Linked DNA regions of Homo sapiens. The protein of the gene in region 1 purifies or fractionates together with the protein of each later gene. This does not show direct contact. Each region holds a gene or a part of one and is shown on either strand. Other genes may lie near its edges.

Region 1 (7,024 bases):
TCACTCAAGGCCCGGAGCTCGAGACCAGCCTGGGCAACATGTCCAAACCCCATCTCTACTAAAAACACAAAAAATTAGCCAGGCGTGGTGGTGGGTGCCTGTAGTCCTAGCCACTTGGGGAGGCTGACACAGGAGAATTGCTTGAACCCAGGAGGCAGAGGTTGCAGTGAACTGAGATTGGGCCACCACACTCCAGTCTGGGTGACAGAGCAAGACTCTGTCTCAAAAACAAAAACAAAAACAACAAAAAAAAACCGTAGTTTCAAAAATGTTCATATTACCAAGGTTGATGTTGACTTAAAAAGCAAAAAACAAACAACAGTGCTATGGACATATTTTATCATCTCTATGACAAGCATTGGGTGTCAGGAACTTCTTGTAGGCCTTGGGTGGAGGTGACTGTATGGCTTCCTTGGTTTATCTAAAAGGCAACCAAAGTCTATTAAATCTCTTGGTATACAGGGCTCTTCTCAGATATGACGCAGTTGTGCTATAAAACCATTAGGTGGTCTAGGCCAGGCGCGGTGGCTCACGTCTGTAATCTCAGCACTTTGGGAGGCTGAGGTGGGTGGATCACCTGAGGTCAGGAGTTCGAGACCAGCCTGGCCAACATGGCGAAACCCCATCTCTACTAATAACACAAAAATTAGCCGGGTGTGGTGGCGTGCACCTCTAATCCCAGCTACTTGGGAGGCTGAGGCAGGAGAATCGCTTGAACCCAGGAGGCAGAGGTTACAGTGAGCCAAGATCACGCCATTGCACTCCAACCTGGGCAACAAGAGTGAAACTCCGTCTCAAAAATAAATAAATAAAAAATAAAACCATTAGGTGGTCTAAACAGTTTTCAGACTATCAAGGGTGCCCACTCTTTCGGCTTCCTGGCCCACATTGGAAGAATTGTCTTGGGCCACACAATAGCTGATGAACTAAAAATAAATAAATAAATAACCAAAAAAAAATCTCATAATGTTTTAAGAAAGTTTACGAATTTGTATTGGGCTGTGGAATAGACAAGCTTTTAAACTTAAATTTTAACTAGAGCTTCAAGGTTTACATGAACGGATTTTTCTATCTTGTTCTTAGTGATCGCTTGCCTTATTTGGATTAGGGGTACCTGCAGGTTGTAGCCACCTTTGTATCAGAGGCGTTCGAACGAGAGCAACTCCATCTTGAGTGAGGGCTAGGAAAGTGAGGCTGGGCCTTGCTGGGCTGCATTCCCAGAAAGTCAGGCATTCATAGCCTCTAGATGTTTAAGGTTAAGGGAACAAATTAATAATGTTTACTAAACAGACCCAGACTTGGGAGTGTCCAGATACCCTGATATCTGGAGAACGAAGGCATTCCTAATTTTGCTTTAAAGATAGTATCGATTCTTGCAAAATATAATAATTAAGAAAATTAATCCTTTATCACAAACCCTTGCAGTAGAGCACATCTCCCCAAGATCTCTTTTTTTATCTTATATATATGAGCACTGTACTTAGGGTGGAAGTGTTCCTCCTCTTACTTTCAGGAACGCCCTGCTCTGTCTATGGAGTAGCTATACTTCCACTACTTTACTTTATTAATAAACCTGCTTTTACTTTGCACTGCAGACTCATCCTGAATGCTTTTTCTTTTCTTTCTTTTATTTTTTTTTTTTTGAGACAGAGTCTCACCTGTTGCTCAGGCTGGAGTGCAGTGGCACCATCTCGGTTCACTGCAACTTCTGCCTCCCGGGTTAAAGTGATTCTCCTGCCTCAGACTCCCGAGTAGCTGGGACTATAGGCACACACCACTGCGCCTGGCTAATTTTTGTATTTTTAGTAGAGACGGAGTTTTGCCATGTTGGCTAGGCTGGTCTTGAACTCCTGACCTCAGGTGATCTGCCCACCTCGGCCTCCCAAAGTGCTGGGATTACAGGCGTGAGCCACTGTGCCTGCCTTCAACCTAAATTCTTTCTTGCCCGAGATCGAAGAACCCTCTCGGGGTCTGGATCAGGACCCCTTTCCTGTAACACTTGGACTCTGAAGTACCTGAGTAAAACAGTAAGACAGCTACGATATAAAAACCATGGGGACCGGGCGTGGTGGCTCATGCCTACAATCCTAGCACTTTGGGAGGCTGAGGCAGGCGGATCACCTGAGGTCCGAAGTTCGAGACCAGCCTGACCAACATGGAGAAACCCCATCTCTACTAAAAATACAAAATCAGCCACACATGGTGGCGCATGCCTGTAATCCCAGCTACTTGGGAGGCTGAGGCAAGATAATAGCTTGAACCTAGGAGATGGAGGTTGCAGTGAGCTGAAATCGCACCACTGCACTCCAGCCTGGGCAACAAGAGCAAAACTCCGTCTCAAAAAACAAAACGAAACAAAACAAAACAAAACAACCATGGGAAGCTTTAGTAAGTTCAGATCTCTGATCCATGTCAAGCACTGCCTGGAAGCCAGGAAGAGTTGATTTTCAGAACCAACAGATCATGGTGCTATCTTTAGAAAAACAGGAAAGAAAACGCAGGAATGAAATTGGATCTTATGGCAGGTACCTTGCTTTGGGGGAGGGGAAGGACAGGCTGGCAAACAGGCCATGTTAGGGAGATTGAAAAATCTCGGCCAGGTGCAGTGGCTCACGCCTGTAATCCCAGCACTTTGGGAAACCAAGGTGGATGGATCACTTGAGGTCGGGAGTTTGAGACCAGCCTGGCCAACATGGTGAAACCCTGTCTCTACTAAAAATACAAAAATTAGCCAGGTGCGGTGGTGCATGCCTGTAGTCCCAGCTACTCAGGAGGCTGAGGCAGGAGAACCGCTTGAACCTGGGAGACGGAGGTTGCAGTGAGCCAAGATTGCACCACTGCACTCCAGCTTGGGTGACACTCCGTCTCAAAACAAAACAAACAAACAAAGAATATACCTTTCTCCAGCAAACAATTTGATTTTGGAGTACTGGATGACAAAGGTTACGTGGCTCTTCTCCTTGTACCTGTTCTCAACCCCGCCCCACCCAATTCTTTTACCTAGCACAAAGGTCTGGACATTAAACAGACAGAGGCTACAGTACCTACAGGCACACCTTTGACAGGCACCATCTGTCCTACGCTGTATTAATTCACCTCCAATCTCATACTTACTGATACTCAGCCACACAGTCCAGCAGACCTATATAGTTTAAGGTTTCATGTTGAACAGCACTTTCAAGAGCTCGCACTCCACTGACATCTTTCAGAATATGCTGGACACTTTCAATGTAACCAGACTTGAGGAGATTTTCATCTCTCTCTTTTAAGGTTTCCTGGGGTGAAAGTATGCTTTCCAAGGCTTCGTGGAACCGTTTCCCTTGTAAAAAGACGTCTGAAAAGAAAATCAGGGAAAAGGGGAGGGGGGAAACACAAACAAAGCTAACACTGAAAAACAAATACTCTAAAACGCCCTGAAACAATACAATTAAAAATGACATTTTTTTTTCTTTTTTTTTTTTTTGGATGGAGTCTCCCTCTGTCGCCCAGGCTGGAGTGTAGTGGGCGATATTGGCTCACTGCAACCTCTGCCTCCTGGGGTCAAGTGATTCTCCTGCCTCAGCCTCCTGAGTAGCTGGGATTACAGGCGCCCGCCACCGTGCCTGGCTAATTTTTCTACTTTTAGTAGAGATGGGGTTTCACCATATTGGTGAGGCTGGTCTCGAACTCCTGACCTCGTGATCTGCCAGCCTTGGCCTCCCAAAGTGCTGAGACTACAGGCATGAGCCACCGTGCCCGGCCAAAAATTACATTAGTTATTTTTAAGTGACAACCCCTAAGACCAAATTTCAGCCTCTTGTGAAACCTAAGAATATACTTTGAAACCAACGGGATTATTAATAGGACGTTAGGTAATAAAATGAATTAAAATTAAGTACTTCTAGGAGAATTGGGCCAAAGTCAAAACTGAAGATCTGGCGGCTACAAGACCACATCCAGTTTATGGTACTATGTGTTTAAGTATCCAATGTAATAAGTTAACTGGCTGTGATAAAATAAAAAAAAATTAGAAATCTAGGGAACTGTGCTTCTGTTTGTAGTTCTTTTTAGACCAAAACTTAATTATGAACATAGGTGGGGGAATCCTTTTACTAACAGGATTAGTGACAAACAAGGAATGGAAAATAAGGCATGCGCAAATGAAAAGTTATGAATTTGATATTATGGAATCTGGAGGGGGAGGAAGAGGAAAATATGTGACATTCTTCTCCTGTATTTTTTTTTTAGTGCTGGAACAGCCTGAAAAATTCAGCTGTGTCTCAATTTTTTTCCCTCATACATTTTTCTATTCTAATATTTAATATTTAACATGTAATATTTTTCTAATTAGCTTTAGATTATTAGAATTCTGATTTATGGCTTGTAGGAGGACACATCTTCTTTCTTCCTAACATTTTATAACATGTGAATACTAGAGAAATTTCATTAGGACACATTAGGACACATTATTTTTCCTGTATGTTCATTTTCTGAGGTCAAAGCCTTACTTTTCGTCCCCAGGTTTCTCCGAAAGAACTGTAGTGTCTGGATTTGTTGGCGTATCCCAGGATCTAACTTGATTTTTGAACTCTCTCCTCATTTTCAGTGCTCGTTGGCCTCCAAGCGCTTGCATAGTAAGCCCCCTCCTCATACACATTTTAAAAAAGGGAACATGGCCGGGCATGGTGGCTTATGCCTATAATCCCAGCACTTTGGGCAGCCAAGGCAGGCGGATTACCTGAGGTCAGGAGTTCAAGACCAGCCTGGCCAACATGGTAAAACCCAGTCTCTACTCAAAATACAAAAATTAGCCAGGTGTGGTGGCGCATGCCTGTAATTCCAGCTACTCTGGAGGCTGAGGCAGGAGAATTGCTTGAACCCAGGAGGCAGAGGTTGCAGTGAGCCAAGATCATGCCACTGCACTCCAGCCTGGGTGACAGAGCAAGACAATCTCAAAAAAAAAAAAAAAAAAAAAAACACACAAAGAGACTCAACAAACACAAGAAATATATTCACTTGTTTCTTAGTAAGAGGAGAGAAAGAGGGGGGACTGTTATGCTAAGCAATGGCCTTGGAGCTTTCAAAACATTATTTAATTTTCAAACCCAACAACCCAGCAAAATAGGGATTGTAAGTTACCCCCATTTTAATGAATGAGGCCCTATCCCACCAGGCAGTGCTGTTAATTTGCCCCAAAGCAAAAAGCTGGACAGGCAGCCTGGCACCAGAATCTGTTTCCAATCTACCACACAGTAGAGCAAAGGAAGCAATCTTGGAAATCACCAATTAGATACTCAGAGAAACAGAGCAGGAAATACACGTGCTTGGAACATGCTTGCAGAGAGACCCACAGAAAAGGCGGAAAACAACTTTACATTTGTCAAGTTTTTTTTTTTTTGAGACAGGGTCTTACTTGTCACCCAGGATGGAGTGTACTGGCTCGATCATTGCTCACTGTAACCTTGAACACCTGGCCTTAAGCAATCCTCCTGTCTCAGCTTCCTCTACAGGCATGTGCCACCACGCCTGGCTAATTCAAAAAAATTTTTTTTTTGTAGAGATGCAATCTCTCTACGTTGCCTAGGCTGGTCTTAAACACCTGGCCTCAAGCAATCGTCCCACCTTGGTCTCCCAGAGTGCTGGGATTACAGGCATGAGCCACTGCACTCGGCCTTCAACTATTTTTTACAAAGATGGAAATGTCAATTCTTTTTTTTTCCAGGCTGGAGTGCAGTGGTATGATCTCGGCTCACTGCAATCTCCACCTCCCAGGTTCAAGCGATTCTCCTGCCTCAGCCTCCGTAGTAGCTGGGATTACAAGTGATCGCTGCGCCCGGCTAATTTTTTTGTATTTTTAGTAGAGATGGGGTTTCGCCATTTTGGCCAGGCTGGTTTTGAACTCCTGACCTCAAGTGATCCGCCTGCTTCGGCCTCCCAAAGTGCTAGGATTACAGGCATGAGCCACTATGCCCAGCTGGAAATGTCAATTCTATCATTAGCAAAAAATGGAATCCCTTCTGAAAAATTATTTGGAGAGTTAAATGAAATTCAACTTAGGAACTAAGTTATTCTACTCCAAATTTACTTGACTCAATTGGAATTATTAACACGTGAAAGACCTACAAGAAATTTATGACTGATGGAATTAAAGCCTAGGAAAAAGAAGTGTATAGCATTCATCTACACACTAGGTTAATGAAGCAGAAGACAAACATGTTAAAAACAGGAAGAAAAAAACTTAGCAAATGCCATGCCAATAGACCATACATTTCTCGCTGCAAACTTACCCCTGGCTAGGTTCTTCATATACACATGATCACAAACATGAAAACCTAGATTACAGGATCCTTTAGACACTAAGGCTCAGAACATTCAACATGATTCAATTTATAAAAATAAAAAATGATCCAAGAATATTCACTGCATGTAGCATCAAGTCTGCTTATTCACTCAAAGTAATGAAAGTGAAATGTTTTCAAGTCCTCGTATATGAAGTGCACTAAAAAAAACCTTCATGCATCTCCAGTATTCTCATGATGGAACTGGCAGGATGGCTAATACTTCAGGATTAAATCAGCGTAGCAAAAAAAAAAAAAAAAAAATTAAAACCTAAACCCCATCCCTTTGTGTGTATTTATACACAAAATATAAATCAGAATAAGTCAGACTTTCTCATTCCCACCAGTCTTCAAAAGATGAACTGATGCTTGGGAAACTGCTCAAGTATTTGGAAGAATGCCAGACACATTTCTATGCTCTCACCTTTGAGAAGACTGGGTAGAAATTACTGATCCAATATTTTTCATTAAAAAAATCTTCTTAATTTTTAAAATGTAATTCTTCTTGGGTGCCACCTTCTTGGGTTTGGGATCCAGTATCCTCCAGACCCGTTAATCAATTTAGTGAGCCCTTTTTCTTTTATTCACCATGACACTAATTGTCCCTTTATTTATTTCAGAACCCACTGCTTACTAATACTTATTTTCTAAAAAGAGTGATTCTGCCTGGGCACAGTGGGTCACACCTGTAGTCTCAGTATTCTGGG
Region 2 (7,490 bases), on another chromosome or scaffold:
GGCTCTGTTCCAGTGACACCATATGTGTGAAGACTGAAATGGGAATTTCCCATGGTTTCCATGTATTGTGGAATATTATTTGTGACCATTTAAACATGCAAACCATGGCCGAGCACCATGCCTCACACCTGTAATCCCAACACTTTGGGAGGCCCAGGTAAGAGAATCGCTTGAACCTAGGAGTTCCAGACCACCCTGGGCAACATAGTAAGACTTTGTCTATACAAATAAAAAAACTAGCCAGGCATGGTGGCACATGCCTGTAGTCCCAGCTACTCAGGAGGCTGAGATGGGAGGATCACTTGAGCCTGGGAGTTTGAGGCTGCCATGAGCCATGATCTCATCACTGCACTCCAGCCTGGGTAACAGAGTGAGTGACCCTGTCACAAACAAAAACCAGAAAAACAAAAAAAATGTCAACCATGTTTGTTTTGCTTGCGGGAGGGAGGCTGAATTTGGCCTGTGGCTGTAGTTTGCTGAACTTTGAACCTTGCAGTGGATGAGCACTGAGGAGTGAGACTGAGTTTTTGACTTGGTGCATCTGGCAGCACTGCATGGAGGAGGTGGCACTAGAACTGGTCCCTGATGGGTTGGGATGTAGTCGTAGTGGCAAACTTGTGTAATCTTCACTTTGTGCTTTTCATGTACTGACTCACCAAATGCAACATCCCCAGACACTAGGTAGTTTTATCACCCCAGTTCCGTAGGTGAGGGAACAGAGGCACGAGGCTCACTAGCTCGTCTGACGTCCTGTGTGCATATGGGGACAGAATGGAAACCTGGCACTTAGCCTCAGAGTCCACACTTGCAACGACGGCTCTTTGGTATGGGTGGGGGTGCAAGGAAGCAGCAAGGTTTCTGTAGATGATGAATTGCCGGTGGGATAGGTGGGTTGGGGCTGGGGTTGGGCAGGAGAGGGCAATGCCTCGATGCAGGCTTTATTTTATGTTCACTCCAGGGAGGAGGTTTTTAGAGGATGTCACGACTAGGGTTGAGTGTCAGTTAATCTGTCTGTCTCTGCTCTGCAGAGTGCTTTTTGTCATGGATTGACATTATTTAATAGCCAGCATGGTAGACTTAGATGGTAGGGTTGTAATTTCTAATGTGAGCCCTGACACTAATTTAGTAGACAGTAGTCAAAAGGTGTGTTGGGATGTGTGTGTGTGTGTCCATGTGCACACACGTGTGTAATTGGAGTAATTGACTTTTATTTATTTTTTTGAGACAGGGTCTCACTCTGTTGCCCAGGCTGGAGTGCAGTGGTTTGATCACGGATCACTGCAGCCTCAGCCTCCTGGGCTCAAGCCATCCTCCCACCTCAGCCTCCTGAATATCTGGGACTACAATTGTGTGCCACCGCACCTGGTTAATTTTTGTACTTTTTGCAGAGATGAGGTTTTGCCATGTTGCCTAGCCTGATCTTGAATTCCTGGACTCAAGTAGTCTGCCTCTCTTGGCCTCCCAAAGTGCTAGGATTACAGGCATAAGCCACTGAGCTGGGCTGGAGTAATTGAATTTTATTTTCTTATTTTTTTATTATTTTTATTTTTTTAGAGTCAGGGAATTGCTATGTTGGCCGGGATGGTCTTGAACTCTTGGCCTCAGGCAGTCCTCCTGCCGCGGTCTCCCAAGGTGCTAGGATTACAGGTGTGAGCCACCGCACCCAGATGGAGTAATTGAATTTTAAACTCTGGGCATATACTGAACCTGTGTACTACTTTGTTTCATTTGTGAGCTCAATTATAGAAAAACCAAAGTTGTTCACAAGGGAATCTTTCACAAACTATCTCTTTATTTGCTCTTTCTCTATTTAGGAGCAGATGGAAAAGTTGAAGCAAAAGGCATCAAAGGTGATCAAGGCTCAAGAGGATCCCCAGGAAAACATGGCCCCAAGGGGCTTGCAGGGCCCATGGGAGAGAAAGGCCTCCGAGGAGAGACTGGGCCTCAGGGGCAGAAGGGGAATAAGGGTGACGTGGGTCCCACTGGTCCTGAGGGGCCAAGGGGCAACATTGGGCCTTTGGGCCCAACTGGTTTACCGGGCCCCATGGGCCCTATTGGAAAGCCTGGTCCCAAGGGAGAAGCTGGACCCACGGGGCCCCAGGGTGAGCCAGGAGTCCGGGGAATAAGAGGCTGGAAAGGAGATCGAGGAGAGAAAGGGAAAATCGGTGAGACTCTAGTCTTGCCAAAAAGTGCTTTCACTGTGGGGCTCACGGTGCTGAGCAAGTTTCCTTCTTCAGATGTGCCCATTAAATTTGATAAGATCCTGTATAATGAATTCAACCATTATGATACAGCAGTGGGGAAATTCACGTGCCACATTGCTGGGGTCTATTACTTCACCTACCACATCACTGTTTTCTCCAGGAATGTTCAGGTGTCTTTGGTCAAAAACGGAGTAAAAATACTGCACACCAGAGATGCTTACGTGAGCTCTGAGGACCAGGCCTCTGGCAGCATTGTCCTGCAGCTGAAGCTCGGGGATGAGATGTGGCTGCAGGTGACAGGAGGAGAGAGGTTCAATGGCTTGTTTGCTGATGAGGACGATGACACAACTTTCACAGGGTTCCTTCTGTTCAGCAGCCAGTGACAGAGGAGAGTTTATAAATCTGCCAGACCATCCATCAGAATCAGCTTGGGATGAACTTATTCAGATGGTTTTACTTTATTAATTCCTCCAATTATTACAATAATCATAAAAAGGTGAAAACGGAAAAGTTATTCCCAAAACTGATTCTATGTAACTTACTATTTTTCCAGGAGTAAATATTTAAAATAGCTGCATGGTTTATTCTAATTTATTTCACATTTCTTATTCCTATTATCTGAAGAATCCTTTGTCTGTGCATTTCTTGTGGGAAGAGTGTTTTGATATCATTTTAGTGCTCTGAGGAGTCATATGAAGATGTATCCCTCATCTGTGTTTCTGAGGACATTAAGGGGAAATTAGAGGGAAATGTTTATTCCATTTAGTACTAGTAACAGCTTTAAGCTGGTGATGCTGTCACACTCCAGAAAGCTGTAGACACTGCTCATTTTGTCTTTTTTTAAAAAATGTATTTTTAAGTTCTGGAATACATATGCAGAACGTGCAGGTTTGTTACATAAAAATGTGCTGTGGTGGTTTGCTGCATCTGTCAACCCATCACCTATGCAGGTATTAAGCCCTGCATGCATTAGCTATTTGTCCTGGTGCTTTCCCTCCCATTTTGCTCATTTTCTAACCTAGGTTTTAATCACCATTCTATCCAACAAATCATTGTTTGATCATTATTTGCCAGACATGAATCTCTACTTGTTTTCTAGGATCGCCCTAATAAAGTACACAAACTGGGAGTCTTTAAACAACAGAAACGGACTTTCTCACAGTTCTGTAGGCTGGAAGTTTGAGATCACCGTAGCAGCAGGGCCATCCTCCCTCCAAAGGGGATACAGGAGGATGCAGCCTTGCTGCTTCCAGCTTCTGGCAGCTGGTGGCAGCATCACTCCAGTCCCCGCCTCCATCTTCAGGTGGCTGTCCTCCTCCTGTATCAGCCAAATTTTCCTCTTCTTACAAGAACAGCTTCCCTAATCTAGTATGACCCATCTTAATCATAATTGCAAACTCCATATTTTCAAATAAGGTCACATGTACAGGCACCGAGGGTTAGGACTTCAGCATCTATTTTGGGAGACACAGTTCAACCCAATCTGCCCTCTGGTTCCCAAAATTGATTTCCTTCTCATGTGCAAAATACATTTTCGCACCATGTCAACATTACCAAAAGTCTTAACACTTTCCGCATCAACTCCTCTCACCATCTACATCATTTAAATAAGCTACAGAGGAGACTTACTGTGTGATTCATCGTGTGGCAAAATGTCTCTCCATCTGTGATCCTGTGAAGCGAGACGAGTTAATCCACTTCTAAAAGACCGGGGGTTGGAGGGGGAGACAGGCATAGGGTAGACAATCCATTCCAAAAGAGAGAAAGGGGAAGGAAAAAAGGGTTCACGGGTCCCAGGCAATTCTGAAACCCTGGAGGGAAAATCCCATTAGACTTCTTTCACTATTTCCCATCTAAAATTTTTAACTGAGCTATGCAAGAGTAAAAAGTTACCGGACAGAGACACCAAACAGAGAAGTGCAGGATAAATTTACCAAGAGAGTAGGTTAAAAGGGAAACTTCTCCTTCAGGCCTATGGTGGGCATTTCTTGTTTACTCAAGTACCTGCCGTCTCTCAAAGAATATCTAATGTCCACTGGAATTCGAATATGTCATGATTTTACTCGCGCCCACCCCTAGTCAACTTGGGAGGGAAGCGCAACCCTAGCCTTTTCTTACTCTGGACACAGGGGGCGGTAAACCGGGAGGGCGGCCGAGAAGGCGAGGGGGAGCGACGCTCTTGCTCTCTGGACGACAACGTGCCCACGTCCTGAGGCCGCGCCCAGACCCGGAAGCGGGGCCGTCACGTGGGGCGGCGTGGGCTGCTGCCTTGGAAACGCGGAGCGCGCGCTCCCAGCGAAAGCAGCAGGGCAGGGATCTGCGTTGGAGGAAGGGACTGCTCTGGTGCTAGAATGCTGTGCGTCGGAAGGCTGGGCGGCTTGGGAGCCAGAGCAGCAGCTCTGCCGCCCCGCCGGGCGGGCCGGGGAAGCCTCGAAGCCGGGATCCGGGCCCGAAGGGTCAGCACCAGCTGGTCTCCCGTGGGCGCCGCCTTCAATGTCAAGCCCCAGGGCAGCCGCTTGGACCTGTTCGGCGAGCGCCGGGTGAGCGGCGCAGGAGGAGCTCCCCTCAGTCCCCGAGCTAAGCCGACCCCTGCTCCGCGCGGCCAGCAACAATCAGGGCGAGATTGTTTGGGCCTGGGAGGAGGCGAGCAGCGAACCCACCTTTTACAGTGGCGTCTTGTGTGCGCTCTCGATGAGGGCAAGGTCACCTCTGCTTTGAGGGGCCGGGTTTAGTGGTCTCCTACCCAGAGTGTCGGGTCCGGGAACTGCTTCTGCATGAGCCCCTTGCTCCACGTGAATCTGAATAGTTCGTTCTGGCAGTGGCGGTGAATTCGTCCTGCCAGGACCCGCCCTCTGCATACACTCAGGCGCACCCCTGCTAAAGCCCTTTAGCTCCAGCGCTACAGTCCTGCCTTAAGAGGCCTATCCCTGTGCGTTCACAGGCGGCATCACATGGTCTTTTTGCAAGGACACGGCTGCCTGCAGTCGAGTAATGGTAATTTCATTAATACCTGAAATTCCATCATCTATTAATTAATTTATTTCAAAGCTTTGGGCTTTCTTGTTTTAAAACACAAAACTCTGTTGAGACGAGTCTCACTTCCCATAGTGCCATGGAATTGGTCACTTTGATTTCTTACCCCAGGAAGTCACTAGCCTGCGTTGTCTAGTGAAAGGTGAGAGGAAGGCAAGGTTGGAAAGGACTTACCTGATGCCTGTTCTACTTGGAGTTTGTACATTTTGTCCGTTTTAGGTTAAGGATTACTTTTATTTTTGCCTTTTAAAATTTCGTTATACTGTATTGCCTTATAAAGACAAGTCTAGGGTATTGTTGCACTGAGCTAAAGTGTGTGATTCTTGTTTTATCTCCATTATCAGTTTTGTCTATTTAAAAATTATTTTGTGTGAAATTTGCTACACCACCTTCCTTAAGGGTATGTAGTGTTGGTATTAACATAGTTGGTGTGAAGAGACCTACTTGTAGGCGCTGAGCAGAAAGACGTGAGGGGAAGCCTGATTTTGGGTGGATGAGATATAACTAATTTTAGCTTTTATTTTTCCCTTTTTGTATCATGATATTCGGCACTGATAGCAGATTTTCAAATTTTAGAATTGATTTTTGCCTTGAAAAAAAAAAAGCCTTATTCAGTTTTTTAGCATTATGGTCACTGGTAATCCGATAGTTAGAATTCCCGAGAGCAATATGGGCAGGTTGTACTGGGAAGTGGAAGTAGTCTGTGCTTGAATCAAATTAAATCAGTATAAAGATGACATTTGTTTTTGGTCCTGATTTTCCTTTGTCTCCCACTGACTTTCTTTTATTTTATTTTTTATCTTGTAATATATTTTGAAGAGAGATTACTAGCTTAACTTCATCCATCCCTTCTTGTAGAAACAGTAGGGCTTGTCAGGCCTGAAGGTTTACCTGTTCGTATTTCTGAAAATCTATGCGTTAAGCACCTACAAAGTGAATTAACAAAGCCTAGCATCTGCTCCGGTCACTTGTTTCTTTCATTGAGTTCCCCCATGTGTTAGACATTCTATTGGATAGCTGGTTAAAGAAATGAAGGGCAGGGCTCTTGGGTCTGGAAGCTCACCTTTTCAGGAGAGAAGACTTTCAAACAGATAAATTGTAATAGAGAAGTATGGAAAAGTGTGGGCTTTACAGATGTACAGAGCGGGTTCGAGTTCTGTCTTTCCCAATATTAATTTGTGACCTCAAACAAGTTTTTTCTAACGTCTTAAAGCATGTGGCCTGATCTGTAAAAGAATGATACTCTGTTCTGTAGGATTGTGTGATTTAAATGAGAACCTATGTAAAGTAGCAGGCACACTTCATGGTATGCAGTAGGTGCATATTAAATGCTTTTTCCCCCTGCCTTCCTGAGTGTGCTAACAAGTGTGATTGAATAGGTAACAAGAGAATGGTCATTACCATTAGATCAGTGATTTTTGTTTTTATCAAGATATTGAAATGTCTTTGTAACGTATAAAATTTGCTCCCAGTTTCAGCCTATGATTTTAATATGTTCATTACATTTTTCTAAAATATCTATTGCTTCATAGTCAACTCATCCTCCCTATTTGATAGTTATAGAATAATTGGTACTATGTACTGAGATCTCACCTTGTCAGCTGCTGCTGTTAGTACTTTACATATACTTATTACCTGTATCCATGCTGTAAGGTATGTATCGTCATTCCCATTGTACATGATGAAAAAAATATTTCTCCTAGGAGGAGAAATAACATGACCAGGGTTATAAGCTAATAATAATTATGGCTAACATCTATAAATGCTCTGTGCCAAACACTGCTTTATGTATATATATATATATATTTACATATATGATCTCATTTAATCTTTGCGGCCACTCTTAGGTTCTGTAGAAGTGACAGCTGGATTTTGAACCCATACCATTGTTGTTGTTGTTTTTTCCGGAAAATAATTAAAAATTGAAGAAAAATTATGTTCTGAAAACATTTTTAGTGTAATTTATGTGGAGTGATATGGGGAGTATGATAGTGGTATCTGTGATCACAGGTATAACATGATACACCAATGAAAGTCAAGATCTCCTTTGTGATAAAAGTAATTTTAGTAAATATAAAAAAAGCACAATTTTGAATTTTGGTTATAAATCAGACGTATTCTTTGGTTCTAAGGGTCTTTTTGGAGTTCCTGAGCTGAGTGCCCCAGAAGGATTTCATATTGCACAAGAAAAAGCCTTGAGAAAGACAGAATTGCTTGTGGACCGTGCATGTTCCACCCCACCTGGGCCCCAGA

Evidence for each region. The genes of interacting proteins can lie anywhere in the genome.
Region 2: the proteins of MGME1 (region 1) and MIPEP purify together in Homo sapiens (co-immunoprecipitation; 3 studies listed by BioGRID and IntAct, with this or other methods). This does not show direct contact.

Annotation. Positions count from the first base shown.
Region 1 is NC_000020.11:17,971,994-17,979,017, reverse strand, and holds part of MGME1 (mitochondrial genome maintenance exonuclease 1 isoform 2 precursor), read right to left. Parts: intron 6,312-7,024; coding exon of another isoform or gene 6,267-6,311; intron 3,335-6,266; coding exon 3,115-3,334; intron 1-3,114. UniProt on the Homo sapiens protein: Metal-dependent single-stranded DNA (ssDNA) exonuclease involved in mitochondrial genome maintenance. Has preference for 5'-3' exonuclease activity but is also capable of endonuclease activity on linear substrates.
Region 2 is NC_000013.11:23,886,386-23,893,875, reverse strand, and holds the start of MIPEP (mitochondrial intermediate peptidase), read left to right. Parts: upstream 1-4,475; 5' UTR 4,476-4,555; coding exon 4,556-4,744; exon of another isoform or gene 4,745-5,195; coding exon of another isoform or gene 5,196-5,198; intron 5,199-7,369; coding exon 7,370-7,490. Other genes in the region: C1QTNF9B (complement C1q and tumor necrosis factor-related protein 9B precursor), read left to right, coding at 1,815-2,587. UniProt on the Homo sapiens protein: Cleaves proteins, imported into the mitochondrion, to their mature size.